Homo sapiens: one gene and its partners. The protein of the gene in region 4 purifies or fractionates together with the protein of the main gene of each other region. This does not show direct contact. Each region holds a gene or a part of one and is shown on either strand. Other genes may lie near its edges. The genes, in order: LRRTM3, FAHD2A, RIC3 and SETX.

Region 1 (7,464 bases), on a different chromosome or scaffold from region 4:
TTCAAAAAAGACTCATCACCACTTTGATGTGCGTGTGTGTGTTTGCTTGGTTTTAAATTTTTAAACATTTCTTTCCCATTAATGTTGATGATAAAATGAAGCCCAATTGTTGATTGTCCAGGTACCCTACCTTTGGGGTAAATCAGAATTTTGAAAGCATTGCTCCTGGGTCCTTTGTACTTGGCGCCTCCCTATTTAGAGACAGTTGGGGAAAATTGGGAAGGTCATGGGAGGAGTTGGAAGCTCTTTCTTATTGCAAGACCAATTCATCTGCACCTTGAGACTTTTTGATGAATTAGGAGATTGTTATATTACCCAGCATTATAAACTGTTAAGAGCTGTGCCAATATAAGATGTTATTATATCTATTCTGGAAAATTTTCACCTTTTCTCCTGAGGCCAAATACCTGCCAGTCCCATAACTTCTTCTTTCGCATGCTCTGACATACCCAGAACATCTGCATTTCTTTTATACAGTTGAATAACAACAATTCACATCAGGTATTGGTTTTCATGAATTCAATTTCTTATTTTGAGTGTTTAGTTTGAGAGATGATATCTGTCTTCTAGTCAGGAACAATCAAAAACAAATATATTTTTACTCTCATATACAATAGTTTTATTTTAGAAAATTTTTTTTTCAAAAAGATTTTACTATTTCTAAGCAGTCAATGGAGTCAGAGAGATCTGAGTTCAAAATAGGATTATGTGATTAGTCTTGAGTGTTAAATTTGGGAATGTTTTCTTTCCTTGTAAAAATGTAATTTGTATTAATCTGTATAGTTTTGTGGTTTTCCAAAACATTCAGGAGGGACTAGAAATAGAGACTTGACAAAAATGAGTTGATCAGTAAAATATATTATTTGCAAGTTAGCATATGTTTTAGGTTCTATACATCAATTTGGATAAATTATATTTTATTTTTCTTATAAGAAAATGGAGAAAATTGTTCTCTATTATTACAAGTAAAAAAAATTTCATGGTTTAAGAAGAAATCTTGCCAAAAGAAAAAAAGAAAAAGAATTTTATGTAAGTCTTCCCAATTAGCTCCGAATTGAACATGTGTTCAGTTGACAAAGTGTTGAACATGTGTTCAACCCTGTACTATGGATCTCTTTTATAATTATGCAGTCTCAATTTAGAAGGTCTTTGGTTTTTTCCTTGGGGTTTCTTTCCTTGTGCTTCCTTGATTTTATGTCTGTACCTCGGGGCCTACATGCATCCACATCTTGGGAGCATCTGTTCTGCACATTCACAAACGAACTTGTATGTTAAGAAATATGTGACTTGTTAAACTTTTTGAACAGAGTTTTAATGTGAGAGCCCAGAGTAGAACACAGAAATAATTCAGTTAGCTAATATTTTACAGATGGAGAATTGAATTAAAATAGGGATTACTAAACAACATGTCAAATATATATAGATATATATTCTTTCATTCTATCCATTATCTCTGGAAGTTCTCTTGCTCTGATCAGAGAAAGAAATCTTTTAGTACAGTGGAAAGACTAACAGCCTGTAAATTTTGAGAATAATTCAACTGCACCAATTATTGGCCCTGTGTTTTGGGGTAAGAGCTCAATTTCTTTGAGATTAATGTGTCTTCATAGGGTTGTTATGAAGACAAAATGAGATAATTTATGTAAAATGTGGTTTGTGAACTTCAAAACACTGCATAACTTTATGGTTTGCTGCAGCTGCTGGCTGTTATTGTAACCATGCTGGGTGAAACTTTCCATTTTTCAGCTCCAAACATAAGTAAACATTTCAGTTGTTTAAATCGGTGAGGAATAGACAGGAAGGGAGACATAGGAATGGGGGTTAGAAGGAGGAAATGGGAGATTATCAAATGCTGGAAAAGATAGGTTAGAAATGCAAGTTTTAGACAAAAACTGAAATAAATTGGAAATATGTGATAAAGATTCCAGACACAGTCTTTCAGATTGTCACCACCCTCACCCTTAACCTGGACATGGCAAAATAAAAATTAAGCAAAAATAATAATAATCATCATCCAGCATTTTTTTTCTTGCTAAAGACCCTTTTGGTTGAATTTAAAGATGAGAAGTCTCAAAATTCCTGGCGTATTTGGTGTAGCTTAGGGCCTTGGTTGCACAGAGCTGTGGTTCCAAGGTGATTGCTTCTATTTATAGTCGTTCACTTTAGATGAATTTAAAATATTTAAGAAAGAAAGTGGTTTCCTTCAGGAAATCAAGGGCATACACTTGTAAGACTCCTTGGAACCTTAACATTTCTAAAAATCATTATCAATTTGAATGTGTCTAGAAATAGGTTTATTAGTAGATAAACCTATTTATTAACAAATATGTTAATTTGTGCTTGTTTACACAAATTAATTCTTCTTTTTCTATCTTTGCAAGGATAACTTCTAATGAGAAAACTTGCAAATGACATTTTGGTTTACATAATAAATAAAATTTTGCATTTGATTTTAGACTCACGAATCATAGCTTTATAACCCTTTATAAATTTGCTAACGACGTAAAGCCAAATTTCAATGTAGAGAATTAAGAATAAGAATAATACATTGCAAGGAAATTAGAAAATGGAAAACATAAAGATTAAAATTAGATTTAAAATGACAAAAATTTTTGAAGAGCAAATAATTTATGCAAAATATGTTACAAAATCTGGGATGCTAAATAGTTGACACAAGTACTGTGTTTGACATTTAGTTTCATTTGAATTAGTAATAGAATTTGCTTCTTCCAACATTTACATCTTTTTTCTTTCTGACTTTATATATTTTCAACAAAAATTTGCTCCACAGTTTTTAAGTTCATTCTTCTTGAATCCGCTTTTACATTTGCTGTGACAAACCTGCATAAAACTAGATTTTATAGATATAACTTCTTTGGAAGAGATAAAAATTTAAAAGTTTGACATTGTTTTCAGTTATTCTTTTCTTCATTGTTTTGATTGGCCCCTGTTAGATTGATGTATTGTCAATCTACTTTTGATGGCATGAATATAAAATGACAACATAAAAAGCACTTCTAGTGCAACAGTAATTGAAACTTGCAGTTTTCCATTAAAAAAAAACACAAGAATGCATGATTACTATTGATAAAGTAACAATATTTTCAAACAATAACCTATGTCAAGCAAACAGCACAAACAAGTTGATTATTTCAGCTTCTAAAGACTCAGGTTTTCTTAATTTGATTTGAATGAACTTTATAATACAATTGTATAATCAATATATGATCTGGGCTGGTGTCAAATTACTCTGAGTTATTTCTTTGATAATTTGGAGGTGAATCCCATTATGGATAGCAATATAAACAATTTAGAACATATTAAGGATGTTTACCGTCTACTTGAGTGATAAAGTTCTCCACCATGGCTCATATCTATATTGAATGAGCTGTACATGTTTAAAATTCTTCCTCAGGAGAGAAATGATGTAGTGCACAACGCAAAACAAATTCATATGTTTCCTTTGAAATGTTTCCAAAATACCGGTCTCACAGTTCTAAATAAAAAGTTGTCTTAAGAACCAGGCACATTTTGCACTGACTGATGGTTACTTTTAGGTAAACCGCTATGGGTTAATTAGGATAAAAATTGCTACTGTACAATTATTATGCACTATACTCCCACCTTGGCCTGAAAATAATGAGATGTAACAAAAGTTTTTATTTGTCACTGGCAGCTGCACCTTTTAACTGTATCACAAAGTCTGTTGCTGTGGTTACAGCCTTTGTTTCCAGTGATGTTTTGTCCATGCTTTCCCCCAACCCTTAACAATGGTTACTCAAAAGAATGAAATAATGAGTCATTCATTCGGAAATATGTTAAAATATCCCTCTTTATCATTACATTTCACTGCTTAGAAACTAGGCTGTAATTCAAGGCAACAGTTAAGTCTGAGAACTGTTAAAAAAATCTTTGATTTTTTTTTCATTTTTAAGAAAAACCTGCCTATGTAATTGAAGAACCTCTTACAAGTCTGAACAATTAAATCCTTTTTGGTTAATGTATTATTTCTGGAACAAGTAGATAAAATTCTACGCAGTAAGCATAATAAAAATCGTGCATGTTTCGCACAGCACAGAATTTTAGAGTCAAGGTTTCTGGGCACAAAAGCAGTAACAAAACAGTCCTTACAAAACTGAGTAACTCTGAATAACACAAGAAATAATTTTTGTTAATTTAAAATTTTAGAAACTGAAATGTGTAAAGTTTTTAAAGTAAAATGTAATTAAATTATGGTACTGTACATACCAGTTGTTTCTACAATTGAAACTTTACAATATGAAAAATACATTAGCTTTGTACAGTTTTTACAGGTAGGTAGGATGAGTTTTGAAAAAAAAAGATTCTTTTATTTTTCAGGGTCATACTCTGTTTAAGTCAAAAAATACTGCACAACTTAGCTAATTACAAAGTGTAGACTTAAAACAATTCATGTCTTCTTTATTTCATGAATCAATCTTGGATTTTTTGTTTATTTGAACAGGGGATTTTGTGTTTTGTTTTGTTTTTAGAGTCCACAATGAACACATCTTCCTCATTTTGTCCTTGAGGTTACAAAGTTTGGTAGCAACCCCTGGCTACCAATGATCTCAGTTAAGCTAGCTGCTGTTTATGGTCACTGATTCGGCCAGCTGTTGTGATTGTGCTCAGGTCCAGCTCAGTCTCTAGGTGTGTTTCCATCGTATCTTCCTGTGCATTCGTTTCAAAGGACTTATGGGAGAGAAGTTCATGATGCACCCCACAGTAACTTATTGTGGGCTGGTCGTATGCCAGAAAGGTTGACACATTCATTGATAAAGGTATCTGGGGAAAAATGACATGAGAAAAGTCAGTTATAAAAATATGGACAACTTTAGGGGAAAGATTTAGAGACTGAAGTGCTGACCTGACTAACCTCCATGGTTATATCTGTGGCCCTGTGGCCCAGGTGTCCCTATATTATCCCGCTAATGCCCCCTATTCCTATATGGTGAGATCAGTGCAACAGTTTTAAATCCTGGGATGAAACTGCTTAATTCTTTACTAGAAGATTTGGATAAGTAGTAGCCTACATGGTTCTGAAAATGATAAAAGATTTATTGGAACAGTCAGAAAATTGCTTTCGCTAACTGGGAAAATAATTGTGTTTTTAGAACTGATAAACACTATTATTATTATTATTAGTGTTAATTATCCTATTATTTGGTTAGGATACAATAGAACAAGAGTGATTCTCAAACTTTAGCATTCACAAAAATCACCACCCACTTCTTTAACTAGTCAACCCCCTGCCACCCAAGTTTTTCATCCAGTAGGTCTGGTATAGGTCCTGGAATCCACATGTCTTACAAGTTCCTATATGATGCTGGACTATTAATCCACACACCACACTTCGATAACCATTGCAGAAGAGAATTATCTAGACAAGCCATTCTGGCTATTCTTACCCATGACTTCTTAATATTTATTTTATCATGAAGATTCCTTAAAATATTAATGTCTGTAGTTTGGTCCATATATCTAAAATTTAGATGAGCATAGAGAATTCCCAGGAAAAATCTATGGTTCCTATGAAAGTCCAAAAAGCATCAAAGGATGATGCTAGTTTGAAGGAACCAGTAGTATACATGAGGAAGGGACTCCCTTGCCAACTAAAGAAAGCAAGTTCTAAAAGTGAGGGAAAAAGCAAGCATGACCATGGTGAGAAGGGAAACACAGTTACAGACAAAGGGGAGCCTGAAATATAATCAGATATCAAAGTCTAGAGATAGTTCCCATTTCTTTTTCAATAAGATAAAAACTTGTCCTAAAAAGTAGGCAGATTTCAGGAACCTTCAGTCCTGATCTTGGTTTAATATCCTAATTACTAATTCATGCTGTTGAATTCTCTGGAGGATAAAAGCTTCTGCCATTCTTGTTTGGTGAACAGATAGAATGTATATTTGTTTGAGCACATCAGACTAACTTCCTTTCTGATCTTAGCTGAGATTAGAGTCCAAAGCTAAGAAAAATAGAAGGCCTAGGTATTATTTTTTTATTAACTGCATCTTTACATTCTTTCCCCTTCTCTCCATGCATTAGAACCGTCTTTGCCACTTCTGTTTCCATCCCTACAGTTCTACTTACATGTATTTCTACTTCAGTGAAAATTCCTGGAGCAAATATTACCTTTTATCTCTTTAATAAAAGTAATCAAAAAAATAAAAAATAAAACTAATCACTTCTTTTAAGATTATTTGCTTATAATATGAATATTTCGGCATATAAAATATATATAGCTTAGTTCTTAGAGAAATGTAATCCAGCTTATTAAATGAAAATTCCAGAGTAACTCTTCCTATTTATGTGGATTTTTAAGATTTAAAACATGAAGTTATCTGATGCGTGAATGAAAGATATCACATACTTTAAAAAATGGTCAAGGCGACTGAAAGATCGTAAAGAAAATGCTTAAGAATAAAATAGGATACTTCCATTTAAAATAAATAAGAATCTTGTTGTCACAGATGAAATAGCCCAGATAACTAAAATACATTTTTATGTAAAAGTAAATGTGCAGCATGAATAGATTTGAGTTATAGAAGAGAACAAAAATAGAACTGTTACTGGGTACACGAGTTTTACATTATCCTCTGGGAAATCAGTGCTCTGTAATGTGTTATGGGTCATATATCTGTAGGATTTTATATACTTGTCCTTATTCGTCATGGAAACTTATGCCTCATATATGCAGAATCATTTCTGGCTTACTTAGAATTAACTCTACTGTGAATAATTTGTAATTTCTATGGTGATGATTTATGAAAAATAATAAACCATGATACATTTATTCTGTGTGTGTGTGTGCACACACAATTTCCTGCTTGATTTAATGTATCAAGGCTACTGACTGGTATGCAGAGTGCAAGTCCTAATTTGAACCATTATCAATTAAATAGTTAGCTCTGATGATCTGTTTTAAAAATCCCACATATTATTTTCTTTAGTGAGTTTCTTACTGTTGGATATGTCTTATTTTGAAATACTTTATGCCATGATTATACTGTTTAAATATAAATCCACATTTTTTCACATTTTATTATTTCTGAAATTAGGATGGAACTTATAAGCAACGTGAATGTTTAACATATATCATTTCCATGTAATTGAGAGTGCATTTTAAAGTTGATTCTATCTTATTAACAATAAAATAACATAGTAAGATGTATCAGTAAGTAGAATGTAACAGCTAGCCATATCTGAATACAGCATCACAGTAGATTTTTCCCAGGTTGACCTAAATGATTTTGAAAATTTAAGAGAGTTAGCATTGGATATATACCCATGTGTATATATAGGGGTACACACATACAGATACATATATAATATATAAACATATATGTATATACACATATATGTATAAACTTAAAGCCAATTACTTATAGTTTCAAAATCATTTAAATCAGGTATGGAAAATGCAAATTTTGGTGATACATCAGTTTTGGA
Region 2 (8,456 bases), on a different chromosome or scaffold from region 4:
CGTGGGCCATAGCATCTGTGGCCTATGGGGGCAGGGGATTTGGCCATACAGGAGGTTAGATCATGGGTGACACCAACACCTATGGCAAGGGATCTCTAAGCTGTTATCCCATGTTAGTAGCCAGAGCCAGCCAAAGGTGGGTGAAGGGAAAGGCAGTGTCAGGGAGCAAGGAGGCTGACTGCTTCCTAGTGTCAGGGACAGCTGGCACCGTGTGTTGGTGAGTGGGGTCAGAACTAGGAGAGGCAGGAGCTGGGGCCTCTGCTGCACTCTGGACTGGGAGCCCACCCTTTCCACCTCACCTTGATGTGCTTGCCTTTCTTTCCAATGACCACGGCCAGCTCCACTTCCCAATCTACCTCCTGTAGGGTGGGAGAGGAACAGTGAGCTGCAGTGGCTTCAGGGCCCACTGTCCATGCTGAGAGGCTGCACACCATGCTGAAGGGCCTCAACCTTTGTCAGTATGGCTTCGCTGCCATCCCATGTTTGCCATCACCACGAACCAGAGCCCAGTGAATGACAAGGGAGGTGTGACTTGTAGACCCATACATTTTGGGCAGTGGCAGACAGCATCATGGGATGCAGGCACAGGTCCCCACACCACTGACTGCAGAAGAGCAACACGTGTCCAGGGCACTGAGTTTAAAAGTCACTCTGGATACTTTTAACAAAGGATAAATACGAAGTAATATCCCCTAGCAATATGTAACCCTACTGTGTGTCAGGCACTGTTCTAAGTGTTTTAATCTATTAACTCCCACAAAGGACTTGAGTAAGCAATTCACAAAAAGGTAACGGACATGGCCACAAAACATGAAGAAATGCTCAGCCTCTCCCATAATCCATAAAATACACTATAAAATAGATATAATTTGGCCTTTAAAATTGGTGGCTCTTTCTAATAATAACCAGAGTTGGTGTAAGTACACCCGACATCCAGATGTTGGTCTCTAATACCACTCCCCACTAAGGAGCACTGGGTTCCTTGGGGAAACGGCCAATTCCAGTTCCAAGACAGACAGTACATGATAAGCCTAGAACATCTTGGCCAGAAAGCTAGGATATACTAAAAGTGACGGGAATGGAGCCAACTTGAAGGCCCCTCACTGGCCAAACTGAGGTCACCTAAAGAATGTAAATGATGAATTACAAACAATTGAGTAAAAACAGAATTCACAGTGATATTGAAGACAGGAATAAAAAGGAGGGAGGCAGCTTTTCTTCATAGAAGAATGCCAGCCAATAAAAACAGAAGGCATGATTGAGAAGTCATTGATCTTGTCTGGGAGTGGTGGGTCACGTCTGTAATCCCAGCACTGTGGGAGGCCAAGTCAGGTGGATCACCTCAGGTGAGGAGTTCAAGACCAGCCTAGCCAACATGATGAAACCCCGTCTCTACTAAACATACAAAAATTAGCCAGGTGTGGTGGTACACGCCTATAATCCCAGCTACTCAGGAGGCTGAGGCAGGAGAATCACTTGAACCCAGGAGGCAGAGGTGTGCTGAAATTATGCCACTGCACTCCATCTGCACAATAGAGTGAGACTCTGTCTCAAAAAAAAAAAAGGTCATTGTTCTCTAACCCCCAGTGCAATAATAGATTCAGTCAGGATGACCACAGGATCCCTGGATGAGATGCTATGGGGCAATAAGATAGTTATGTGATCTCAAACTACCACCCATGGATTGCTTATTACAAAAATAGAAATGCATCTTCACAATGGAGGGACCTAGTGAATGTCAGCTAAACCAAGTGGTCAAATTCTGGGACCACTGACATGAGCCTCCCAGTGGGATACGATGGAAAATGTATAACATCTGCTTTGTAGATCTCTTGATAAAAATGCTTACCCTGACACTAATCATGAAGAAACAACCAGACAAACCCAGAATGTGAAACATGCTATGAGACAACTGGATTCTTCAAGGAAAGGGCAGGGGGTATTGTTTGAGAGCAGGAGTTGGCAAACTATGGCCAGCTCAACATCTGCTATAATCAACTTTGATTGGAAACCCATCATTCATTTCTGTATCGTGGTTTTCACACTATAACAGCAGAGTTGAATTGTTGCAAAACAGAACATATGACACGCAAAGCCTAATATTTACTAATTGGCCCTTGATATGGTTTAGCTCTGTGTCCCCACCCAAATCTCAACTTGTAGCTCCCATAATTCTAACGTGCTATGGGACGGACCCGGTGGGAGATGACTGAATCATGGGGGCAGGTCTTTCCCGTGCTGTTCTCATGATAGTGAATGGGTCTCATGAGATCTGATAGTTTTAAAAATGGGAGTTTCTCTGCACAAGCTCTTTTCTGCCTGCTGCTATCCACCTAAGATGTGACTTGCTCCTCCTTGCCTTCTGCCATGATTGTGAGGCTTCCCTAGCCACGTGGAACTGTAAGTCCAATTAAACCTCTTTTTTTTGTAAATTGCTCAGTCTCGGATATGTCTTTATCAGCAGCATGAAAACAGACTAATACAGCCCTTTAAGAAAAAGTCTATGGAACCCTGTCCTAGATTGAAACCACTAAAGAGATATAACTGAATACAGTGTGTGGCCTTGGTTGATCATGGAGCAACAAACGAAGTAACCAAATTAGAAGTTATCTTTGGGGAAGTCAGCAGTACTTCCGATTGGGAATTGGGGCAATTGGATTTCATATTAAATATTATTCAAGTTAATTTTTTTGGTTGTGATAATGGTGGGATGGTCATGCAAGCCATTGTCCTTATTCTTAGAAGATGCCTATTTACGTTTTTATGACTAAATTGTCTTAATATTTCCAATGTGTTTTAAAAGGTCCCCTCCACCCCATACCCTGCAAAAAAAAAAAAAAAAAAAAAAAATGTGTGTTTGCCATGTGGAGGGCAGGGAGAAGACAAGGGAGAAAAAGGATATATGGCCAAATGTTTACAATGAAACCAGGTGGAAAAGTTATCTGAGTGTTCACTGTATTATTTTCCCAGCTTTTCTATAATTTTCAAGACATTTCTAAAATAAAAATCTGAGAGAAAAAGTAACCAGTGTTAGAAAGGGTATATACACTACTGGTGGATGTGTAAGTTGCTTTTACAATTTTTTAAAAGGCCAATTGGCAGAATTTTTCAAAAATTTTGAAATACTGCCTATACGCTGACATATTTAAATTCCAAAGGGTTTATTCAAAGGAAATAATAATGTATTAATGGACATGCAAAGCCTTTTCCACATAAGGATGTTTACTGCAACATTTATTTATAGAAGCCAAAAACTAGAAACAGTATCCAGCAGTAAGGTACTCAGGAATAAACTAATCTACATAACAAACTCCGTGGTGTCAGGGCGAATACTTAATGGCATGAAAAAATGCTCCTGATGGAGTCTTAAGTAAAAGGTAAGTATATGTACAGTATAAACATATACAGGAGCGGAGAAACACTGGGAAGGTAGACAGAAAAACATTAATATTCCGAGCCATGGGCAGTGGGATTATGGGTGACATAATTTTTTAATGTTTATCTCTATTTTATTATCTACAGTGAAGGTGCATTGCTTTTGTAACCAGGAAAACACGTACATTAACTTTTTTTTTCCAAGGCCAGTGTTACTACTGTGTGTACAATCCTGTAGAGTTTCTGCTGAATGCGCTATTGAGCGAGAGGTGGCTCCAGTAGGCTCAATACTGAGCTCAGAATGCCCTTGTGATGGGCCCAGTGACTAGGGAGGGCAGTGGGGAGACACTGACCTGGCTCTGTGGTGGGAGGACCACCTCATCATAGGGCCCCACGATGGAGCTGGCAAACTTGCTGAAGATGATGGGCTCCTTGGGCACGGGCACGTTCTGTTCTTTGCAGTGGTCCACATAATTCATGCCCACACACACCACCTTATCTGGTCGTGTGACTGGAGCCAGGAAGGTTACCTCCGACCGTGGTAGGACTGGCAACTGGGCAGCCAGGGCTCTGTAGAGACCAGAGCAGGTGAGAGGGTCTGGCTGGGAACAGGTGGGCAATCCCGGGCAGGCTGGGCAGATCCTGCAGCAGCTACAGGTTTTGCTTTTTGAAATCTATTTCCTAGCTCTATCAACCATCAGAGTCAGTGTGAAAATCACTGACTATTGTCCTTTGCTATCAGAGCAGGGCTTTTATTTATCCAGTGTTGATTTCCTCTCCCCCTTAGGTAACTCATGTCCATGTAAAAGATACAAACTGGAATACATGGAAAGGTTTCCCTTTCCCCTTCCGGTTACCCCGTTCCCCTGGCTCTTCGCAGCTACTCTATGGATATTCTTCTCCCACCCTTTTGTATGCAAATGATAGCATACTATTTACATCTTTTAAAAAAACAACTGATTTTGGAGATCTCTGCTTAACAATATGTAACAATACATAGAGAGTGTCCTCTTTATTTCTTGTGGCTGCATATTACTGCTCTATAGAGATATACCCAAGTCCCTAATGAGGGGCATGGAGATTTCCAGTCTTTGCAGAATATGGCAATATGGGAACATACTGTTAATACTGTGAGCTGTGAAACATTTGTATTTTTTTCCATTTTAATAGATGAAAATGACATCTTAAAGTATTTTTAATTTATTGTTCATCAGCTCCTTAGACCAGATTCTATAGGGGTCCAGGCTTCAGGGACACTCTCACCTAATCTAGTCCAAACCCAGGAACCAAGTGTCTTATAGAAAACCTCCTTGCAGTCCTCTCTCCTTGTAGGAGCTGGGAGTCTATATCACTCCCCCAGCTGCATAAGATGCCTTTTAGGACCCCCGGGCCCAGACCCGTCAGTCAGTCCAGGACTTCATTCCCAGAGGAGGCAGTGTGATGAAGTATAGAGTCCTGGTTCCAGCACCACATGTATGGCCTTCAAATTGTTAATCACCTCCCCTAGCTCTCAGTTTTCTCCTCTGAAAACTGAAGATGTTATTATGTAAGATTTCTAAGGATCTTTTAAGAGAACGGGAGAAAAGGAAAGGTGGGGTTACTCTGCTCCCTTGCAAAAGAGCTACCTGCTGGTGCTGTTTCCCAGAGCGGGGAGGGTGCAGGGGGACCAGGGCAGCTGCTTCAGGGCGATGCTGCCCACTTACTTACCTTCTTGCCACTGAGAGGGTGGCCTCTCCCTGCTCTAGGAACTGCGTCATCGTCTTCGGGAGTGTGGGGTCAAAGGCATTGAGGTTGATAACCCCTCCACCATTCCCTGTCTCCAGGCCCAAGTGAGGCCCCACCAGGTGGGGTGCCCGGAACTGCACTAGTCTCATGTCTCTGGAGGGTTGAAAGGGCCACTTCTGAGCCTGCAGCAGAACTGTGAGTAACCTTCTTCTACCAGACACCAGCATCAGAGCCTGCAGAGAAAAATGCAGGATCCAGGAGACAGAGGATCCCAGAGCCATCATCAGGTTCCCTGAAATTCCTAGGGCTATAGCCCGAGGCCCTTTGCCCCATCAACCGTTCCCTGCATACCACACGGGAAGTGGTCCAGGCTTGTATTTTACCTGCTATACTTCATAAGGTGAAACTTTTCTAGAGGAGCAACTACTACATGCTACGCAGTAAGTCCCAGGGATTCCAGCGTTCCTTCAACCAGTGCTTTCTGAAAGTTCCCACTGTGCTTGGCTCTGCTGTAGGTATTGGGGAAACAATGTAGGTGAAACTCAGCCCTGCCATTCTCCCTGCACAGGTCACAGATGTTAACAACTGACGTAAGATTCAGCTATCAGGACTAATGCTGTGAAGATGGTCAGGGGCTCTACCCTTCTCTAGTTTCTGGAGGAAGTGATGTGAGCTGAGCTGGGCTAAATGAGCAGGACCAGGAATTAGCTGGGTGGCAGCCCAGCATGGGCAAGTGACGCTGGTGAAACTGGCTTCACAGTGGCCATAAACAATTTTTTAAATGCTATTTTGGTCCTGTTAACCTCCTACTTAAAATGGTTTCCACTGCTCACATGATCAAGCTAGAACCTCTACCAGGCTGTCCCAGTCTTCTAGGAGCAGCGCCCCCACCTGCCTCTCCAGATAATAATTATTTCGTTTCTCCTGATAGAGAACAAGTTGCCTGAGGGAAGAGGCTGCAGACAAACAACAGGGTCTGGGCCTGACAGCCATCACTTGTCATCTCCCTGGGTCCAGGGCACATGTCTGTCTCTTTCACTGCCCAGCACTGTGCCTGGTGCACAGAAGGCTCTCAGTGACTTTCTGCTGAATGAACAAATAAGTGACAGAAGCAGGGGCTTGACATTTCACTACTTGGGAAAGCTTAGTGCTTGTTAACTTCAGGAGACATGGCTGTGCCTTCCCACAAGGGCCAGTTGTAGTGGCTCATGCGTGATATCCCTAACAATTTGGGAGGCCGAGGTGGGTGGATCACTTGAGGTCAGGAGTTCAAGACCAGCCTGGCCAACGTGGTGAAACCCCGTTTCCACTAAAAATACAAAAAACTCGCCGAGTGTGGTGGCAGCCACCTGTAATCCCAGCTACTAGGGAGGCTGAGACACGAGAATCGCTTGAACCCAGGGGAAGGAGGTTGCAGTGAGCTGAGATCGCGCCACTGCACTCCAGCCTGGGTGACAGACGAAGACTCCATCTCAATTAAAAAAAAAAAAATCCTCAGGGCTCAGATCCTGTTTTGAGTCCAAGGCTCCACTTAAAGACAAACACTATTCTCTTGTTTTGTTCTTAATCCACGTCTGGCCTCTATTCCTTACCACATGGTGCCTTCCCTGAATGGTTCCTTGCTCTTACAACAAAGGCGGTATTGTACAGCCTTCTATGCCCAAAAATGTGGAGGCAGCTGATCCCCAGACTCTTGGTCCTCACCTGGAGATTCAATCTGCCTTGTTCAGTTGAAGATTCATTAGACTTAGGTCACCACTGTTGTGGCCCACCAGTTTGACTAGAAAACCGAGGGCTTTGACTTCTCTGCCCTGCTGTCTTACACAAGCACCAACTGTGCCACTGTCAAAAGGCTGTTCGAGCCAATGTGCACACACTCAGACACTCCACATGCTAACATAACAGTAACTGCTGCCGCTGAATGCCAACTATTAAGTGCTCTACCTACAATGTCTGATTTAATTCTCGACAATTGTGGAAGGTAGGTACTGTTAGCCTCATTTTACAGATGAAACAATTAAGGCTTAAAGAGGTTAAGAGATTTGCCCAAGGTTACACAGTCCTAGAGCTAGGAGAGGAAGGAGCTGGGATGTGAATCCAAGTCCAGGTGACATGAAGTCCTTGGTTCAGAAGCTTGTAATGCAAGCAAAAAAATCCAGCTTCAGCCCCCATCCCCCTACCAAGGCCATTTTAACCCAGAATGTTGTGGTGAGAAGTGGGGACCTTCCATAGGAAATCCTCCAAAGTCTCTAAAGATTGTAGTGAGAAGTAGGGACCTCCCACAGGAGATCCTCCAGAGGCCGTAACTGCTAACAGACATGCGTGGGGAAACTACAGGCGCCCTCTGGCTGTTGCCTCAGGGACGAGGCTGGTTACCAGCTCTCCAAGAGAACCCCAGGCCCCACTGACTGTTCCCTTCCCACATGACACACACATGCAGGTTCATTCCAACCTTACAGCAATCTCCTCAGGTAGAGCGCCCTCACTTTAAAGAAGAGGACACTGAGACTCAAAGGGATGATGTCAGGTGCCCAAGGTACTAGTCAGAAAGTGGCCCTGGGGCTTCTGCAACAACCACTATATCACACAGCCCGAGCTCAATCCAACTCTGCAAGAGTCCATAAGCAAAGGGGCGGCGACATGAGGTGGAAACAGTAGCCTCCATCAAACAAAGCCTGAGACATGGGTGTGCACGTCGGATTCCATCCCACCGTCCACTCGCCTGGAACCCGTGCCGGTCCCCCAGTTTCCCCATATGCCCAGCTCCAGCCCCGACAGTTAGTGAGTGCTCACACAGGTCCGCCCCGTCTGTGTGGTCAGAAGCGGCTGGGGATCCGGTACTAGTTCTGCGCTCCGCGGGAGACCGGCGCCACGGACACCCTTCTGGCCTAGACCCAGCCAGGCTCGTCCTACCTGGCCGCGGCGGCCGATCTTCCTGCGCTGTAGGGTTAGAGCTCGCGGGGCCGAAGGTCAAGGGCGGCGGGCGCCTGAGCACTGCCACCAGTGACCGCAGCCAGCCGGGGAAATGCAGCAGCTGCTAACCCAGGGCCACTCGGCCGGATCACCCGAGAGAAAAGCGGGCGCGATCCTGTGACGTCACAGGCAATGGCCACTAGCAGGGCGCCAATCCCGGAGGGGCGGGCCCATCGTGGGGCGGGCGGCTCCGGCGGGTCTTCAGGCTACGGGTTCAGCCAGGCGCCAGCCGCGTTCTCTGGAGACGCTCTCTCTCGGAGGGACCCTGCACTTGCCTGAACTCGAGAGTGGGCGCTGCCCGAAGGTTTGTCCCTGGGCGCTTCGCTGGCCTCATCCGGTCTCGGCCTTGTTCTGGGCCTGGCGCCTTTCCCATTGTTGGGGAA
Region 3 (8,456 bases), on a different chromosome or scaffold from region 4:
GAGGTTAAATTAATCTTTCTAGGGCTCATTTTCATCATCTGTAAAATGGGCATGATATCTACTTTCCAGAGTTTACAAGAATTACAGATTAAATAATATCATATATACAAAGCACCTAGCACATATAGTAGGTATTTAACAAATTCTGATTTTCCCTCCCCACAAACTGAATTCCTAAACAACTGAATTCCATAATCTAACCCAAAAGTGCTCTTCACACTACTTTCCCATTACATACCACTCATTTAGTCAAACTAGGGTTCTCACCATGCTTTGAACCTGACTTTCACCTTCTTGCTTCTGAGCCTATGCTTATCCTCCAGTGGCTTTGCTTTCCTCTCCAACTCCACATATCTAAATCCAGCCAATCCTCCAAGGCCCAGGCCAGATACTGCCCCCATGCCCCCGAAGCATTTTCTCATGCTATTCCCCATGCCTGTAAAACACACTGCTTGAGCCTCTTTAATTGCACTTACCACACTTGGCCTTAATCAAGAGTTTTATTAATGTGTCTTATAGCCTGTACTTAAATGAACCGGGAAACAAAAACAGGTAACATTTTCCACTAAACACCATCTCTATCCAATTTTATTTGGTGTATATCATATCTGAGAACTAGAAAAGCAGCCTCTAACATCTAAAAGTTGGCCTGGTATTATCAACTAGGCATTAATACTGCTATGAGCTGGCTTGGTACTCACAGATAAGTTGTGGTGTTCTCCTGTTACACATAAGCTATTTCAGAACACCAACATTAGACAAGGCCATTCTGTGATCATGACGGATCAAGACAAAAAACAAGACCACTCAGTAATCTGTCTGAACACAGACAAAACATGAACACTGTCCAAGCCACTAAATACCTAATATCCCCCAGTGCTGAGTAATGTGAACGATGGGGCTGCTTTATCAATTACAGCTTTAGCCTTTCTCTAGTTGGCCCTCCCTTTAGATAAACTGTTAAGATACCAGTCCTAGAATTTGCCTTACTTCCTGAAAGCATCTAATTCAGAGTAAAGTACCACATCCTTAAACCATCCTCCAGATCACCTAACACAAACCCAAATCCTATAATGACTTTTTCTAACAGTGCCTTATTGAGATGCCCCACAATTCCCCATGGTGTGCATTCTCCCTTGCTGCAATGAGTAATACACTCAACTTGTTCAACTACAGGTGTGTTCCTAGTGGTCTCCGGCTGGAAGACAAACTAAGAACTTCTTGAATAAAGGCCTAGTGTTTTATTTGTTTGGGTTCCCAGGGCAGGCTCTGGATCTTGCCTACTACAATCTTTGCTGACCTGATTTGGATGAATTATACTGGGAGTGTTAGCCTTTATTAGAATCTCAAGATCCTGCCCAGTCATTTGTAGGGCTAAAAATAGTTTTTTACTTCATTATCCTGCCAGTTTTCAATTTTATAGTTTCTAGAATAGAAACTGGCAATTAGGATGACTGATCAAGCAAGGTATTCCATACCCACTTACCTGTACGTTTCTAAACTTGAAAAAATGCCTAATTTACACGCATTCATGGGCTCTCAAATTGTCTGTTGTTTTCTGTTCATTTCCATAATACATGAACAGGAAAATGACCCTCTGAAATCAAAATGATTTCCTAATCTCTGTCCTTCAAACATTCCTTCAGAGTAGATCTCTGATGCTTCATTAGGGAAAATAAATGGTAACCAACCAAAATAATATATTTGTCTTCAGGCACTTACATACCAACACATAAGAAGCTAGTTTAAGATAACACAGAACTATGTATGTATATGTATGTCATACATGTATATGTGTATATGTTTGTATGTGTATATTTATATACACATATACATGTATCTGTATATTTTCACATCTCAGAGAGATTAAGACTCAGTGGGACACAACTTACTTAGGGAGAACATCGTGACAAAGGGTCTGTGCTATTCCACAGGAACAGGGCCACTGGAGAGGGGCTACTAAGGAACCCTATTTATAAGCATTCAGGCAGGGTCAGCAGGAAAGATGCCCAGATACAGTGTTACTGTGGGAACACCAAAGGTTCCCAGCCAAGTAGAAGTAGTAGATAGGACTCTCTTGAAGCCACCTCCAACACAGAGTGGCACACTGTCATCTTGGAGTACTTCAACTACCCTGCAACCTATTCAAACTCTCATTCAGCTGACAATGGAACAACTGACAAGTTCTTGACCAAGTGTGCTGACATTTTTATGTTCCACAGGTACACAGGGAGAGCAGAAGAACTGCTACTCTGATCAAAGAAGAAGCTCTGATGAAATGAAAGGAGAACCTCAGGAGAATGAGATCTTAGTGTTTCTGACAACAAAGTAGGAATCGTGTAGCACAAACTCTAGGAAGCCAGAGTTAAGAAGTTTTTTGTTTGTTTTTTGTTTTATTTTGAGATGGAGTCTCTGTCACCCAGGCTGCATTTCAGTGGCACGATCTCAGCTCACTGCAACCTCCGCCTCCTGGGTTCAAGCAATTCTCTGCCTCAGCCTCCCGAATAGCTGGGATTACAGGCATCTGCCACCATGCCCAGAGAATTTTTGTATTTTTAGTAGAGACGGCGTTTCACCATGTTGGCCAGGCTGGTCTTGAAATCCTGACCTTGTGATCCACCCGCCTTGGCCTCCCAAAGTGCTGGGATTACAGGCGTGAGCCACCGCGCTCGGCCACAGAGCCTCCTTTCTAAGTAGGAAAAGAGACAATAAACAAGATAATGATAAATACTAAGGAGAAAAAATAAGACAGGGAGAAGGGGTAGGACCGTGTTGGAAGTTAAGATTTTAGCTGGAATGGCCAGAGAAGGCATCAGGAAATGCAGTTTGAGAGAAAACATGAAGACGAAGGGAAAGGCACATGGATATCCAAAAGAAGAGCATTTCAAACAAGGGAAACAGCAAATGCAAAGGCACTGAAGTGGGAACATGCTTGGCATATTCAAGGAACAGTGAGGAGGAAGCCAGTGTGGCCACAACAAAGTGAGACAGATAGAAAAGTAGAAGCAAATGGGGAAGAGAATTACATAGGGCCTTTTGGGTCATGTATAGACTATCTTTTCATCTAAGCCAGGAAGCCACTGTAGAGTTTTGAGGAGGGGAGAGATGTGAGTTGACTTAAGCTTCAACATAATACTATCTGGCAGCTATATTGAGAATAGACTGAAGTGGGGAAGGAGGAAGGAGGCAAACCAGGGTGACAGAGTAAGATGGAATAGAGCAACCAAATAACCAACTGGTTGAATGACCCTAAACAAAACGTTTCCATGAATACAGTGGTGGGACTCTAAAAGCAGTTTTAAATGACTAAGACATTTAAAAAAATAATTTGACCTATCAAGAAAACATGCTGAGGCTGGGCATGGTGGCTCATGTCTGTAACTCCAGCACTCTGGGAGGCCAAGGCAGGCAGATCATCTGAGGTCAAGGGTTCGATACCAGCCTGGCCAACATGGTGAAACTCCGTCTCTACTAAAAATACAAAAAAAATTAGCCAGGCGTGGTGGTGGATGCCTGTAATCCCAGCTTCTCAGGAGGATGAGGCAGGACAATTGCTTGAACTTGGGAGGCAGAGGTTGCAGTGAACTCAGATCCTGCCACTACACTCCAGCCTGAGAAAAAACAAACAAAAAGAGAAAACATGCTGATCATAATCAAAGGTAAAATTGTAAAAAAAGAAAGAAAAAAAGAAAAATTATAACATGGTGGGAAAAATTTGAACACCAACTAGATATTTAATGACATCAAGGAAGTATTGACTTTTTAGGTGTGACAATGGTATTGTGGCTACATTTTAATAAGAATCTGTTTTTAGAGATGCATACTGAAGCATTTAAGGATGAAAAATGATCCAATGTCTAGGATTTGCTTCAAAATAATCCAGTGAATGGGGGGAAAAGTGGGTGGGGATACCCATGACACAAGACTGACCATGTATTGATGGCTGCTGAAGCAGGATGATATGGATTCATTTTACTACTCTCTCAACTTTTGCTTATGTTTGAAAATGTCTTTAACAAAAAGTTTTTTAAAAATCAAGAATGGCACACAGCTAAGAAATGGTAAGCAGATACATTGAATGAAACATTGAATGCTCTGAAAAAATTTCAAGAGCTAGAATTCTTGGCCAAATTTAAACAAATAAAATGCAACAAGGAAAACTACAAATTCCTACATTTCATTCCGAAACATCAAGTGAACAGTAGAAAATGAACAAAACCTAGATGAGCAGCTCCTATTAAAAAGAAGAAAAAAAGGCTCAGAATTCTAATATACAGCAAAGTCAGCAAGGAAAATGCTAAAAACTAGAGCAATCCCCAGAAAGCATTAAGTATAGAAGAAGAAGAGTGCAGGGAAACAACAGATTGCTCTTTCATGAACTGTCTTAGATATGCTGTTATTTGCAGTTCTAAGAGCCTCTTCTGAGAGGGCTGTGTTCAAACACTTGCACCTAGGTCATACCAGGAACGGATGAGGGAGCTAGGGATGTTAACACAGGAAAGAAGACTGAAGAAAGGGACATAATACTACTTTTCCAATTCCTGGATTAATCATCTTACACCTGTAAACCAAAAAGTATCTGGGACAGGCCTCAATCAATTTAGAAGTTTATTTTGCCAACGTTAAGGACACGCCCAGGAGAGAGGTCTGTGCCTTTCTCCAAAGATGATTTTGAGGGCTTCAATATTTCAAGGGGAAAAGTGAGCTGGAGGGGAAAGAAGGGTATGGTAATCTATATGTTGCAAGAGAAAAGGAGCAGGTAGAGGAATAGTCAATTATGTATTCATCTGGTGCTCAGTAAATCGGCACTTCACGTAAGATACGGTGAACATAGAGTAGCTACCTGTAGAGATATTTAATTTTTTATCTGTAGCTACCTGCTTAGGAACAAAAGGAAAGGCAGTTTCTTGCACGACTCAGCTTTCAGCTTAATTTTTTCCTTTTGGCATAGTGAACTGGGGTCCCAAGTTTTTATTTTCTTTTCACACACCTTTAATCTACTTTTCCTCCATTCCTATTTTGGCAAAGGAAATCAACATCTATCCCTTCACCTAAACCTGAGAATAATCCAGATGTCTCCCTCTCCCTCACTTTCCCATTCTATTTTAAAATGTCTCTTAAAATTATTCTCTTCCCTCCAATCTATCCATTGATAACCTCTCTTGCTCTAATATCCATATTTTCCTTTGGGAACTCCTCTCAACTCCAGAGTGGATTCATCAGTATATTCTTTCTACCCACAGCACCACAAGTTAACTTAATTCAAGCCATTAACGTGAACGGATATGTTTGCTGGAACTTCTGGGAAAGAATCTTGGGAGTGAGGCTGGAAGGTGAGAGTGATGGAGGACTTAAAAGAAAAGAGGCCTGGAGCTGTGCCCAGCAAAGTGCTGTAATCCCAGCACGTTAGGAGGCTGAGGTGGGACAATGACTTGAGGCCAGGAGTTCCAGGCCAGCTCTACACACACACGTATATAAATGAGACACTCCCACTTTCTCCGGGCAATGGAATGTGAGGAGGTAATGTCCGAAACTGTTGCTATAAATGAGACACTCACTTTCTCCGGGCAATGGAATGTGAGGAGGTAATGTCCGAAACTGTTGCTATAAATGAGACACTCACTTTCTCCGGGCAATGGAATGTGAGGAGGTAATGTCCGAAACTGTTGCTATAAATGAGACACTCACTTTCTCCGGGCAATGGAATGTGAGGAGGTAATGTCCGAAACTGTTGCAACCATTGCTACCACCCTGAGAGGGCAGCCAGAGCACAGAACCAACTTGAGAACGAACCCAGAGTGAAAAGGACACAGAAAATAAGAGCTAGAGCCCCAGTGTGACAACTGTGAGTCTCTGGTTCAAACCATACTGCAAGACATTTCTAACACAGGGTCTTTTCATTTACACAAGTCAATAAATTCCCTGTCTTAGTCAAGCTGACTTTTCTGTCACTTGTCACAAGCACCCTAACTGGTGAACCCAATGACAATGACTTGGTGATGCTCATGATGTCTCAACTGGATGACTACAACAATCTTCTCCCTGAAGAAATCCTCACAACGCAGTGTCTACACTGCTGCCAGGGTGTCCTTTCTAAAACCAGGTTAAATGTTTCTCTTCTCCTTACACACTCAATGATGCCTCATCTGCCTTTAGAATAAAACCCAATCTCCTTAAGAATGACAGAAAAAAACCTTCACAATTTGGCCCGTGCCAACTTCTCTGGTGTCTTCTCTCACAACTCTGAGGATACTTCAAGGCTCCATGCTTCTTCTTTTTTTTTTTTTTTTTTTTTTTTTTCTTTTTTTGAGACAGAGTCTCACTCTGTCGCCCAGGCTGGAATGCAGTGGTGGGATCTCAGCTCACTGCAACCTCCAACTCCCAGGTTCAAGCAATTCTCCTGCTTCAGCCTCCCAAGTAGCTGGAATTACAGGCGTGCACCATCAGACTGGGCTAATTTTTATATTTTTAGTAGAGACGGGGTTTCTCCGTGTTGGCCAGGCTGGTCTCGAACTCCTGGCCTCAAGCAATCTGCCTGCCTTGGGCTCCCCAAGTGCTGGGATTATAGACATGAGCCACCGTGCCTGGCCCTAAGCCTCTGTGTTTCTTTGCTCAGTATTTCTTCTACCTAGAATGCCCTTCTTTTTCATCTGGATTATTTAAACACACACACACACACACACACACACACACACATACACACACACACACACCCCCCAAAACACTTTAAGAACTGCCTCCTCAATTTAGCCAAGGAAGGTAAAGCTGGGTTAACATCTAAATTTCAATTAATGTAATATGCCACATCAGTAAAGGACAAAACTCACATAATCATCTCATAATCATCTCAACAGACATAGAAAAAAAGTATTTGATAAAATTCAATACCCCTTCATAATGAAAAACACTCAGCAAACTAAGAATACAAGGGAACTTCCTCAACCTGAAAACAGGCATCTACGAAATGCCCCCAGATAACATTACATATGCTAGTAAAGCATACTTCTTAAGATCAAGGACAAGAAAGGATGTTTGTTCTTACCACTTCTATTCAACATTGCACTAAAGGTTCCAGCTAGGGCAGTTAGGCCAAAAAAAGTAAAAATAAAAATAAAAGGCATTCAGATTAAAAAAAAAAGTAAAACTATCTCTATATGCAGACAAGTTCAGCGAGGTGACAAGATACAGTATCAATATACAAAAACTAATTGTCTATACACTAAGGAACAATCTGAAAACAAAATTTATAACAACATCAAAAAGAATAAAATACTTATGAATATATTTAACAAAATAAGACTTTCACACTAAAAACTACAATCTCCTTTAAAATAAATTAAAGACCTAGATAAATAAAAAAGAAATCCTCTGTTCATAGATTGAAAGATTTAATATTGGTAAGATGGCAGTACTCTCCAAATTGCTTCAGTTCACTCTATCAAAATCCCAACTGGCATTTTTTTTTTTTTTTTTGGCAGAAACCAAAGTGATGATCCAAAATTCCTATGGAAATGCTAGGTCACAGGACCCAAAATAGCAAAACAATCTTGAAAAAGAAGAACAAAGTTTGAGGACACATTTCACGATTTCATAACTTAGAAAACTACAATAATTAAGACAGCATGGTACTGGCTAAGGATAAGTATACAGATTAATGTAATATAATTGAGAGTCCAGAAACAAACTCTTACATTTAGAGTCAACTGATTTGACATGGGTGCCAGAACAATTTAATGAGAAAAGAAGAGTCTTTTCAACAAATGGTGCTGGGGCAACTATATATCCACATGAAGTTGGACTCCTACCTTACCCATATACACAAATTAATTCAAAGGGATCAAAGACTTAACTGCAGGAGCAAAAACTATAAAACTTGAAAACATAGGCATAAATCTTCATGACCTTGGATTTGGCAATTTGTCTCAGATATGACACCAAAAGCAGGAGAAACAAAAGAAAAAAGTAGATAAATTGGACTTTGTCAGAGAAAATGTAAAACTTTTCTTATTCAAAGGGCACCATCAAGAACGTGAAGGCAACCACTGAATGGAAGAAAATATTTGCAAATCATATATCTGATAATAGATTTGTACCTAGAATATACAAAGAACTCTTACAACTCAACAATAAAGACAAGACGCCAAGTGTGGTGGCTTACACCTGTAATACCAGTGCTTCAGGAGGCCAAGGTGGGAGGATCACTTGAGGCCAGAAGTTCAAGACCAGCCTGGGAAATATAGTGAGAGCCTCATTTCTGCCAAAAAATTTAAAAATTAGCCAGCTATGGTGGCACACACCTGTAGTCCTAGTTACCTGGGAGGGTAAGGTGGGAGAATCACTTGAGCCCAGGAGTTTGGGGCTACAGTGAGCAATGATGGCACCACTGTATTCCAGCCTGTGCACCAGAGTGAGACCCTGTCTCTCTCAAAAAAAAAAAAAAAAAAAAAAAAAAGACA
Region 4 (8,456 bases):
GTTGGAGTAGTTGATACCCGAAAAAAGACTAAATTAATTTCTCCTCAGAACCTGTCTGTCAGAAATAATAAGAAACTTCTGACTAGTCAAGAACTTCAGATGCAAAGGCAGATCAGACCCAAATCACAAAAAAATAGACGAAGACTTTCTGATTGTGAAAGTACAGATGTTAAAAGAGCAGGGTCACATACAGCACAGAATTCTGACATATTTGTACCAGAATCTGATAGGTCAGATTATAATTGTACAGGAGGAACTGAGGTACTTGCCAACAGTAACAGAAAACAGTTAATAAAATGCATGCCTTCTGAACCAGAAACCATAAAAGCAAAACATGGGTCTCCAGCAACTGATGATGCTTGCCCTTTGAACCAGTGTGATTCTGTAGTGTTAAATGGAACAGTACCAACAAATGAAGTAATTGTCTCCACTTCAGAAGACCCTCTGGGTGGAGGTGATCCAACAGCACGTCATATAGAGATGGCAGCTTTGAAAGAAGGAGAGCCTGACTCCAGCAGTGATGCAGAGGAAGATAACTTATTTTTAACCCAAAATGATCCTGAAGATATGGATTTATGTTCACAAATGGAGAATGACAATTATAAACTCATTGAACTAATTCATGGAAAAGATACAGTTGAGGTTGAAGAAGATTCTGTAAGTCGGCCTCAGTTGGAATCTTTGAGTGGCACAAAGTGTAAGTACAAAGATTGTCTTGAAACCACAAAAAACCAGGGTGAATACTGCCCAAAACACTCTGAAGTGAAAGCAGCAGATGAAGATGTATTTCGTAAACCTGGCTTGCCTCCTCCTGCATCTAAACCTTTGAGACCTACCACTAAGATTTTTAGCTCAAAGAGTACTTCACGAATTGCTGGTCTTTCTAAATCTTTGGAAACTTCTTCAGCACTTTCACCGTCTCTAAAAAATAAGTCAAAGGGGATACAGTCGATTTTGAAAGTACCACAGCCAGTTCCCCTCATAGCTCAGAAGCCAGTTGGTGAAATGAAGAATTCGTGCAATGTTCTTCATCCTCAGTCTCCGAATAATTCCAACAGGCAAGGTTGCAAAGTTCCATTTGGTGAAAGCAAATATTTTCCATCTTCCTCTCCAGTAAACATTCTTTTGTCATCACAGTCTGTCTCTGACACCTTCGTTAAAGAGGTCTTAAAATGGAAATATGAAATGTTTTTGAACTTTGGTCAGTGTGGGCCCCCTGCAAGTCTTTGTCAGTCCATCTCAAGACCTGTGCCTGTCAGATTTCACAATTATGGAGATTATTTTAATGTTTTTTTCCCTTTGATGGTATTGAATACTTTTGAAACAGTAAGTATGTGTTTCATTTGTATGCCTCTCCAAACTTTTCAAGTTACCTCTTTACCTTGCTGAGTGAAAATGAGAGTATAGTTCAAAAAATCAGCCAGGCGTGGTTGCGGGCACCTGTAATCCCAGCTACTCGGGAGGCTGAGGCAGAGAATTGCTTAAACCCAGGAGGCGGAGGTTGCAGTGAGCCGAGGTCGCGCCACTGCACTCCAACCTGGGCGGCAGAGTGAGACTCTGTCTCAAAAGAAAAAACAAAAAAAAGTATAGTTAAATTAAAATTGACCGTTTCGATTTAGATACTGGTTTTAGATTTCATGTTGAACAGACATTTGTGCCAGCCACTGTTTTAGATACTGGCAATACAGAGGAAACACTTTTTTTTTTTTTTTTTTTTAGGTGGAGTTTTGCTCTTGCTGCCCAGGCTGGAGTGCAATGGTGCGATCTTTGCTCACTGCAACCTTCTGCCTCCCAGGTTCAAGTGATTCTCCTGCCTCAGCCTCCCAAGTAGCTGAGATTACAGGCCTGCGCCACCAGGCCTCACTAATTTTGTATTTTTAGTAGAGAAGGGGTTTCACCATGTTGGTCAGGCTGGTCTTGAACTTCTGATTCTGACCTCAGGTGATCCACCAGCCTCGGCCTCCCAAAGTGCTGGGATTACGGGCATGAGCCACTGTGCCTGGCTGGAAACTCTGCTCCTTGGAGCTGATAGACACAACTCAGGGTGCTAATATACCAAGTGCAGAGGTAACACAGAAGGAAATGTTTATTGACGCACGGGTAAAGGAAGACTTCTCAGAGGAGATAGTTTCCCATGTGCATTTGTTTTGTTTTTAAGTAAGAGACCTCTGCTGTAGTTTTCTTGAGGAGGTGGCAAAGGGTGAATTACATTGAACACAAAGTAATGAATCCTAAATTTCCCTACACGTCAGACTTCCCAGTTTCTTTCTTTCTTTTTTCTTTTTTCTTTTTTTTGAGACGAGTCTCGCTCTGTCGCCCAGGCTGGAGTGCAGTGGTGCAATCTCGGCTCACTGCAAGCTCTGCCTCCCGGGTTCAGGCTGTTCTCCTGCCTCAGCCTCCCGAGTAGCTGAGACTATAGGCTCTCGCCACCACGGCCGGCTAATTTTTTGTATTTTTAGTAGAGATGGGGTTTCACCATGTTAGCCAGGATGGTCTCAATCTCCTGACCTTGTGATCTGCCCGCCTTGGCCTCCCAAAGTGCTGGGATTACAGGCGTGAGCCACTGCGTCTGGCCGCCAGTTTCTTACTCATCACAGCAGCTGCTCTGTGTAACAGCCTCCCCAACCCCAGCACATCCTATTCTGGTTCTTCTCTCCTCCTTACTCAAGTAGAGTTGACAAACGATAAGATTCCCGTTAAAATTTGAGAAAAACATCAAATAATTCTTTAGTGTAAGCATTCAACTGCGTTTAGAAGGATTTTTGTGTGTGTGTTTTCAAGGCAGGTAAGAAGTGGGAGCAAATTTTTAGTTAATCCTCAAAAGAAACTTTCGTGTATACAGTAATACTCTTAAAACCAACAATGTTGAGGTAAATAGTCATGGTTCATTAGCTTGATAGATATTTGAGTGCCTAGTATGTGCCAAGTGCTCTTACAAGCATGGGAGATAAAGTGGTGAACAAGACAGGTGTGAGGTCTCTGCTCTCTGGAAGTGACCATTTGGGATTGAGATAAGGACTCTAGTATGATCTAGAACAAAGGGGACAGGGCACTTTCTGGAGAGATCAGATAACCTCTATGAGCAGATGATATTTACACTGAGACCCAAGTGACTAGGAGTTAACTGTGGGAAGTATGTTACAGGCAGAGTGGAGTGCAAAGACAGTCTGGTAACAAGATTGGAGTGTTGGGGAAGGAAGTGTAATGTACAAAGGGACAAGTCTACTACAAAAGAAGAGAAGTGAGTTGTTAACACTGTACATGGCAAGATAAATGGCTTTTATAAAGCTTGAGTGAACGTATCTTCATCAATGTACTTTATGTTAAATCTTTTGATCAATTCGTACCTCAAATTTTAGCCATTTTTGAGAGTTGCTTTATTATTTTTTTTTCCTAAGGTACTTTTGTTTTAGCAGGAGTTGCTTTATTTTCGCTGGAAAGCACTAAATTGCTTAGAAGCCATTCATAACCCTATGAAGGGTAGACACTTACTTTCATTTCCTGAGTTAAAAGATATTTATTAAGATTTATTTCCTTCAGGACATTTTTGTAGTCTCAGCTTTTTAAAAACAGAATGAGCACAAGTTCCATTTGTACATATACAGAGTTTAAAATAGTCAAAGATTTCTATCTGGCCCATTATAAAGAACATCAGGCACCCCTCATCCCCTCAAGTAACTATTTTCTATTCTTAATGAGTCCTTTGGAAATTTCTTTCCATTTTTATCTTTTTTTTTTCTTTTTTGGAGACAGGGTCTCACTCCTGTCCCCCAGGCTGGAGTACAGTGGCACAATTATGGCTCACTGCAGCCTCAACCTCTTGGCCTCTGGTAGTCCTTCCACCACAGCCTCTTGAATAACTGGGACTACAGGCTCACACCATAATGTCCAGCTAATTTTTGTATTTTTAGTAGAGGCAGAGTTTTTCCCATGTTGCCTAGGCTGGTCTCAAACTACTGGGCTCAAGTGATCCACCTGCCTTTGCCTCTCAAAGTGCTACGATTACAGGCGTGAGCCATCCCGCCTGGCCTTCCTTCCATATTTCTGAATAACATGTCCATATTGTAACTCCTTGATTTTTCAGTTTTAGGCGTTTCTGTTTCCTGCTTCAGGAACTACCCCCATTTCCAGCCCAACCCTTGCACACACTCTTCCTGTTCCCTCACCCTCATTATGGGATTGTCTTGAAATTTTTAGATCCATTTTTGTTATTTTGACTATGTGAAAGATATCTTCAGCTAAGCCATGTAGTATGCTGTAATTGCCTTTCCATTTCCTTCCAAACTCTGTGTTTTCCTTGGATTTATTGTTTTATATGTTTATTTAATTTTCTACTTATCACTAAATTAATGCCAGGATGTCTTTTCTTGAATGTTTAAATCGCTCATGATCAGGTACGTTAGTTAATCTATAAATTTGTTCTGTGTGTGGTGCATGATGATATTCCTGAAATAGTAGTCCTTATCCTTGGGTTGGGTCTGTATCTCCTCCACCCCCGTCATCTTTCTTGGTTACTCATGTTAGCGAGGCCTGTCCTTCAGGCTTCCAGAGAAGAGGATATATGAGAGGTACATTTTTGAAATCTTGCATGTCTTAGAATTTCTTTAATCTTCTCATTTTCTTTAATTTTTTCTATCTTTCATCTCATTTTCTTTTTGTTATCCTTTCTTGGAGGCCACCTCAACTTTTCTCCTAAGTCCGTTGAATCCTTTTTAGCGTATTTTTAGTTTCCTGGAACTCTTGTTCTCTGAATAGTCCTTTATTCTATTTCATGGATGTGGTATTTTTTATTAGCTAAAGTTTATGATAATTTTAAAGTTAGCTAAAAGTTTTTCTCTTTTTGCATGGTTCGTGTTTCCCCAGTTGGTTTTTCCTGTTCATTTTAGTGTTTATAGTCCTTTCTGTTAATTCCTTTTTTCAGGTGGTAATGATTTCTGGTGGTCTACTCACATTTAAGAACAGGAAACTAAAGAGTAGATTGGAACATTATTCATGGTAGCCAAAAAGTGGAAACAACCCAAATGTGTGTCAGTTGATGAATGGATAAACAGGTCTGTTCATACAATGAATGGAATATTATTCAGCCATAAAAAGAAGTGAAGATCTGTGTTCACTAATGAACCTTGAAAACATTGTGCTAAGTGAAATAAGTCAGGGACAGAAGGTCACATATTATATGATTCCGTTCATATGTATTGTCCAGAATAGGCAAATCTGTAGAGACAGAAAGATGAGTAGTAGTCAGGGGAAGGAAGGAGGGGGGAATTGGGATTGCTGATAGGTACAGTGTTTCTTTTGGGGTGATGGAAATGGTGCGGAATTAGGTAGTGGTGATGGTTGCACAGCATAGTAAATAAAACCATAGTACTAAAAACCACTGAGACGTACACTTTAAAATGGTGAGTTTTATGTTGTATGAAATACCGTCTCCATTTAAAAAATATTACTTTAAAAAGAGAATAAATTTGATTAGCAATAGGTTAAAAAAGATGCCTAGGAAAACATGAAATCTTCAGATACTTTTACAAAAACGAGCCTCTTTATGGTTGCACTCTGGAAGGCAAACGTGATCTGAAGGGCGCCATAGCAGGGTAAAACCCAGCATTAGTTTCATTCTTCATGGTAAGGTTTTGTGCTTAGGTGCAGTTATAATCTGTATTTTGTTATATATATAAAAGATGAAAACACCAGAAGCTCTGAGTGAAAGGGTGGGCTTGTTGACCATTGGCACTTCATTAGGAAGCCCCACCCCACCATTATGTCAATCAATGTCTTTTTTTCTTTTTCTTTTTCTTTTTTCTTCAGACGGAGTCTCACTCTGTTGCCCAGGCTGGAGTGCAGTGGCACGATCTCGGCTCACCGCAACCTCTGCCTCTTGGGTTCAAGCATTTCTCCTGTCTCAGCCTCCTGAGTAGCTGGGACTACAGGTGCACACCACCACACCCGGCTAATTTTTGTGGGTTTTTTTTTTTGTAGTTTTTTTTTTTTTTTTTTTGAGACAGTATCGCTCTGTTGCCCAGGCTGGAGTGCAGTGGCATGATCTCAGCTCACTGCAAGCTCCGCCTCCTGGGTTCATGCCATTCTCCTGCCTCAGCCTCCCAAGTAGCTGGGACTATAGGTGCCTGCCACCATGCCTGGCTAATTTTTTGTATTTTTTAGTAGAGACGGGGTTTCACCATGTTGGCCAGGATGGTCTCGATCTCCTGACATCTTGATCCACCCACCTCGGCCTTCCAAAGTGCTGGGATTACAGGTGTGAGCTACCGCGCCCAGCCCTAAGTTTTGTGTTTTTAGTAGAGGTGGGGTTTTGCCATATTGGTCAGGCTGGTCTCAAACTCCTGACCTCAGGTGATCCACCCGCCTTGGCCTCCCAAAGTGCTGGGATTACAGGCGTGAGCCACCGCGCCCGGCCTCCCAATGTCTTTAGTCTTTATTTTTCCTGTCAGGTCTCAGTTCCCAAAAAAGAATCGTCACATATTTTACCTGGGAAATGTAGGCGTGGCAGGGAGCTGAGTGTGGGAAGAGGGCTGGGTAGGAGTGGGGGACGGAGGAGAGGTGTTGGAGCATTCAGTGTGTAAACATTTACTACTATCTCATCCTCATCCTTGCTGTCCTCAAGGTCAGAGACTGCTTATCCTCTCTAGAGACAAAATCTCTTGTCATTTTTTGCTGGGACCAGGGAGGAACAGTTGCCCTCCAGCCATCCTTCTAGAGAGAGCTGTTGCTTCCCAGTTGGAGTTCACGTTCTTGGGCTTGCTGAGTTAGTTCCATTCATCCCTCTGCTTTGCAGCTTCCAAAGTGTGGTTACTGTTGTCTCCTCTTCTGTCCTTTTTGTTCTAATTGGTCAATGCTGTTTTTTAAAATCTCTTTGGTGTTTTAGTGGGGTTTCAGGAGGGAAGGAAATGGTGTGTGTTCAATCTACTTTGAAGTTACACCTTTCTTTTTAACCATACGATTTCAACCGTCTTATTTAAGCATTTCTGGTTTATACAGGCCAATAATTATTGGTGGTATTAAGGTGCCTTGTTTAGTTTTTTTTTTTTTTTTTTTTTTTTTGAGTTGGAGTCTCGCTCTGTTGCTCAGGCTGGAGTGCAGTGGTGCGATCTTGGCTCACTGCAAGCTCTGCCTCCCGGGTTCACACCATTTTCCCTCCTCAACCTCCCGAGTAGCTGGGATTACAGGCGCCCGCCATCAGGCGTCCGGCACCACGTCTGGCTAATTTTTGTTTTTGTATTTTTAGTAGCGACGGGGTTTCACTGTGTTAGCCAGGATGGTCTCAATCTTCTGACCTTGTGATCTGCTCGCCTCAGCCTCCCAAAGTGCTGGGATTACAGGCGTGAGCCACTGCGCCCGGCCTAGACTTTTTTTTTGGGGTTACCAAATTTGGTTTATATCCTATTTAGAACCTGAAACATAGATTTAATTATTTGGTTATGTTTTATTGCAAGTGGAATGTAGTGACATTACGTAGAATTATCTCTTACGAAAGACAAATGAGAACAGATTCAACTTTTAGAAATGAGTCTTTTGTATATTGATGTGACGGGAAGAAGAATTTTTTTTTTAATCCTTGTATTTAACACATAAAAGTGTTAATTGGATACATGTGCACTGTTTTGCCAGGGGCCAATTTTTTGCAGTCAGTTGTGGCAAATGCTCTTTTATTTTAAAACTTAGATATGCTTTCTGTTATCTGCAGTCCTCTACTGTTGCCTCTCCTGTGTAGAGGTCATTGTAGGTTGCATGGACAGGGAGCAGGCAGGCAAGGAGTACCCTTAGACACTAACTTAGTACCATTAGGCACTAACTTGGATTCTCAGTGCCCAGTAGGGAGATGGCTCTATTTCTGTGGCTAATTTCAGACAAGATTGGGTGAATTTAGGGTGGTATGGCTATGGATGCTTTGGCTAATTTCAGATTGTAATCAGTTCTGTGAAGGAAACAAATAGGCAGAAATGATGAATTGTTGTGAGTGGCAATATTGGGAGGCTGCTCTTGAGACCTGGCTGACATCCAGAAGAAGAAAGTATTGTTCAGGAGGTGGGGTGGAATGTCAAGAATGTAATGCCATGAGATGGGAACTGAGTCTTAACGAAGAAAGAGATTAGGCTGGTATGGCCGAAGTGAAGTAGCTGATAAGGGGTAAAGAGAAATGAAATAAGATTGGAGAAATGAGAGCCAGATACAGCGCTGTAAGCTGCAGGTTGATATTTCATTCTCAGTTCAGTGAGAAGGTACTGAAAGATTTTTATTTGGTTGGTCATTTAGACTGGGGGAATAGTAATAGTAACCAGTTTACGTTTTTTACACACCATTTGCTGTTGCTGTGGAGAGTAATCTTTAGAAAGGTAAGCATAAATGCAGTTGACCAGTCAAGGGGCTACTATAGTAGCCCAGGAGAAAGGTGATGGTGGCTTGATTTGGGTGGGAGCTGTAGAAATGGAGAGGAATTCAAT

What was found.
Region 1: the proteins of SETX (region 4) and LRRTM3 purify together in Homo sapiens (co-immunoprecipitation; one large-scale study listed by IntAct). This does not show direct contact.
Region 2: the proteins of SETX (region 4) and FAHD2A purify together in Homo sapiens (affinity purification with mass spectrometry; one large-scale study listed by BioGRID and IntAct). This does not show direct contact.
Region 3: the proteins of SETX (region 4) and RIC3 purify together in Homo sapiens (co-immunoprecipitation; one large-scale study listed by IntAct). This does not show direct contact.

Annotation. Positions count from the first base shown.
Region 1 is NC_000010.11:67,094,926-67,102,389, reverse strand, and holds the end of LRRTM3 (leucine-rich repeat transmembrane neuronal protein 3 precursor), read right to left. Parts: intron 4,804-7,464; coding exon 4,594-4,803; 3' UTR 839-4,593; downstream 1-838. UniProt on the Homo sapiens protein: Exhibits a limited synaptogenic activity in vitro, restricted to excitatory presynaptic differentiation. May play a role in the development and maintenance of the vertebrate nervous system.
Region 2 is NC_000002.12:95,402,430-95,410,885, reverse strand, and holds the start of FAHD2A (oxaloacetate tautomerase FAHD2A, mitochondrial), read right to left. Parts: upstream 8,179-8,456; 5' UTR 8,014-8,178; exon of another isoform or gene 7,894-8,013; intron 7,887-7,893; exon of another isoform or gene 5,484-7,886; intron 5,334-5,483; 5' UTR 5,328-5,333; coding exon 5,083-5,327; intron 3,946-5,082; coding exon 3,729-3,945; intron 360-3,728; coding exon 300-359; intron 23-299; coding exon 1-22. UniProt on the Homo sapiens protein: Tautomerase that converts enol-oxaloacetate, a strong inhibitor of succinate dehydrogenase, to the physiological keto form of oxaloacetate. It is thereby required to maximize aerobic respiration efficiency by preventing succinate dehydrogenase inhibition.
Region 3 is NC_000011.10:8,156,356-8,164,811, forward strand, and holds part of RIC3 (protein RIC-3 isoform a precursor), read right to left. Parts: intron 1-8,456. UniProt on the Homo sapiens protein: Molecular chaperone which facilitates proper subunit assembly and surface trafficking of alpha-7 (CHRNA7) and alpha-8 (CHRNA8) nicotinic acetylcholine receptors.
Region 4 is NC_000009.12:132,319,194-132,327,649, reverse strand, and holds part of SETX (probable helicase senataxin), read left to right. Parts: coding exon 1-1,326; intron 1,327-8,456. UniProt on the Homo sapiens protein: Probable RNA/DNA helicase involved in diverse aspects of RNA metabolism and genomic integrity.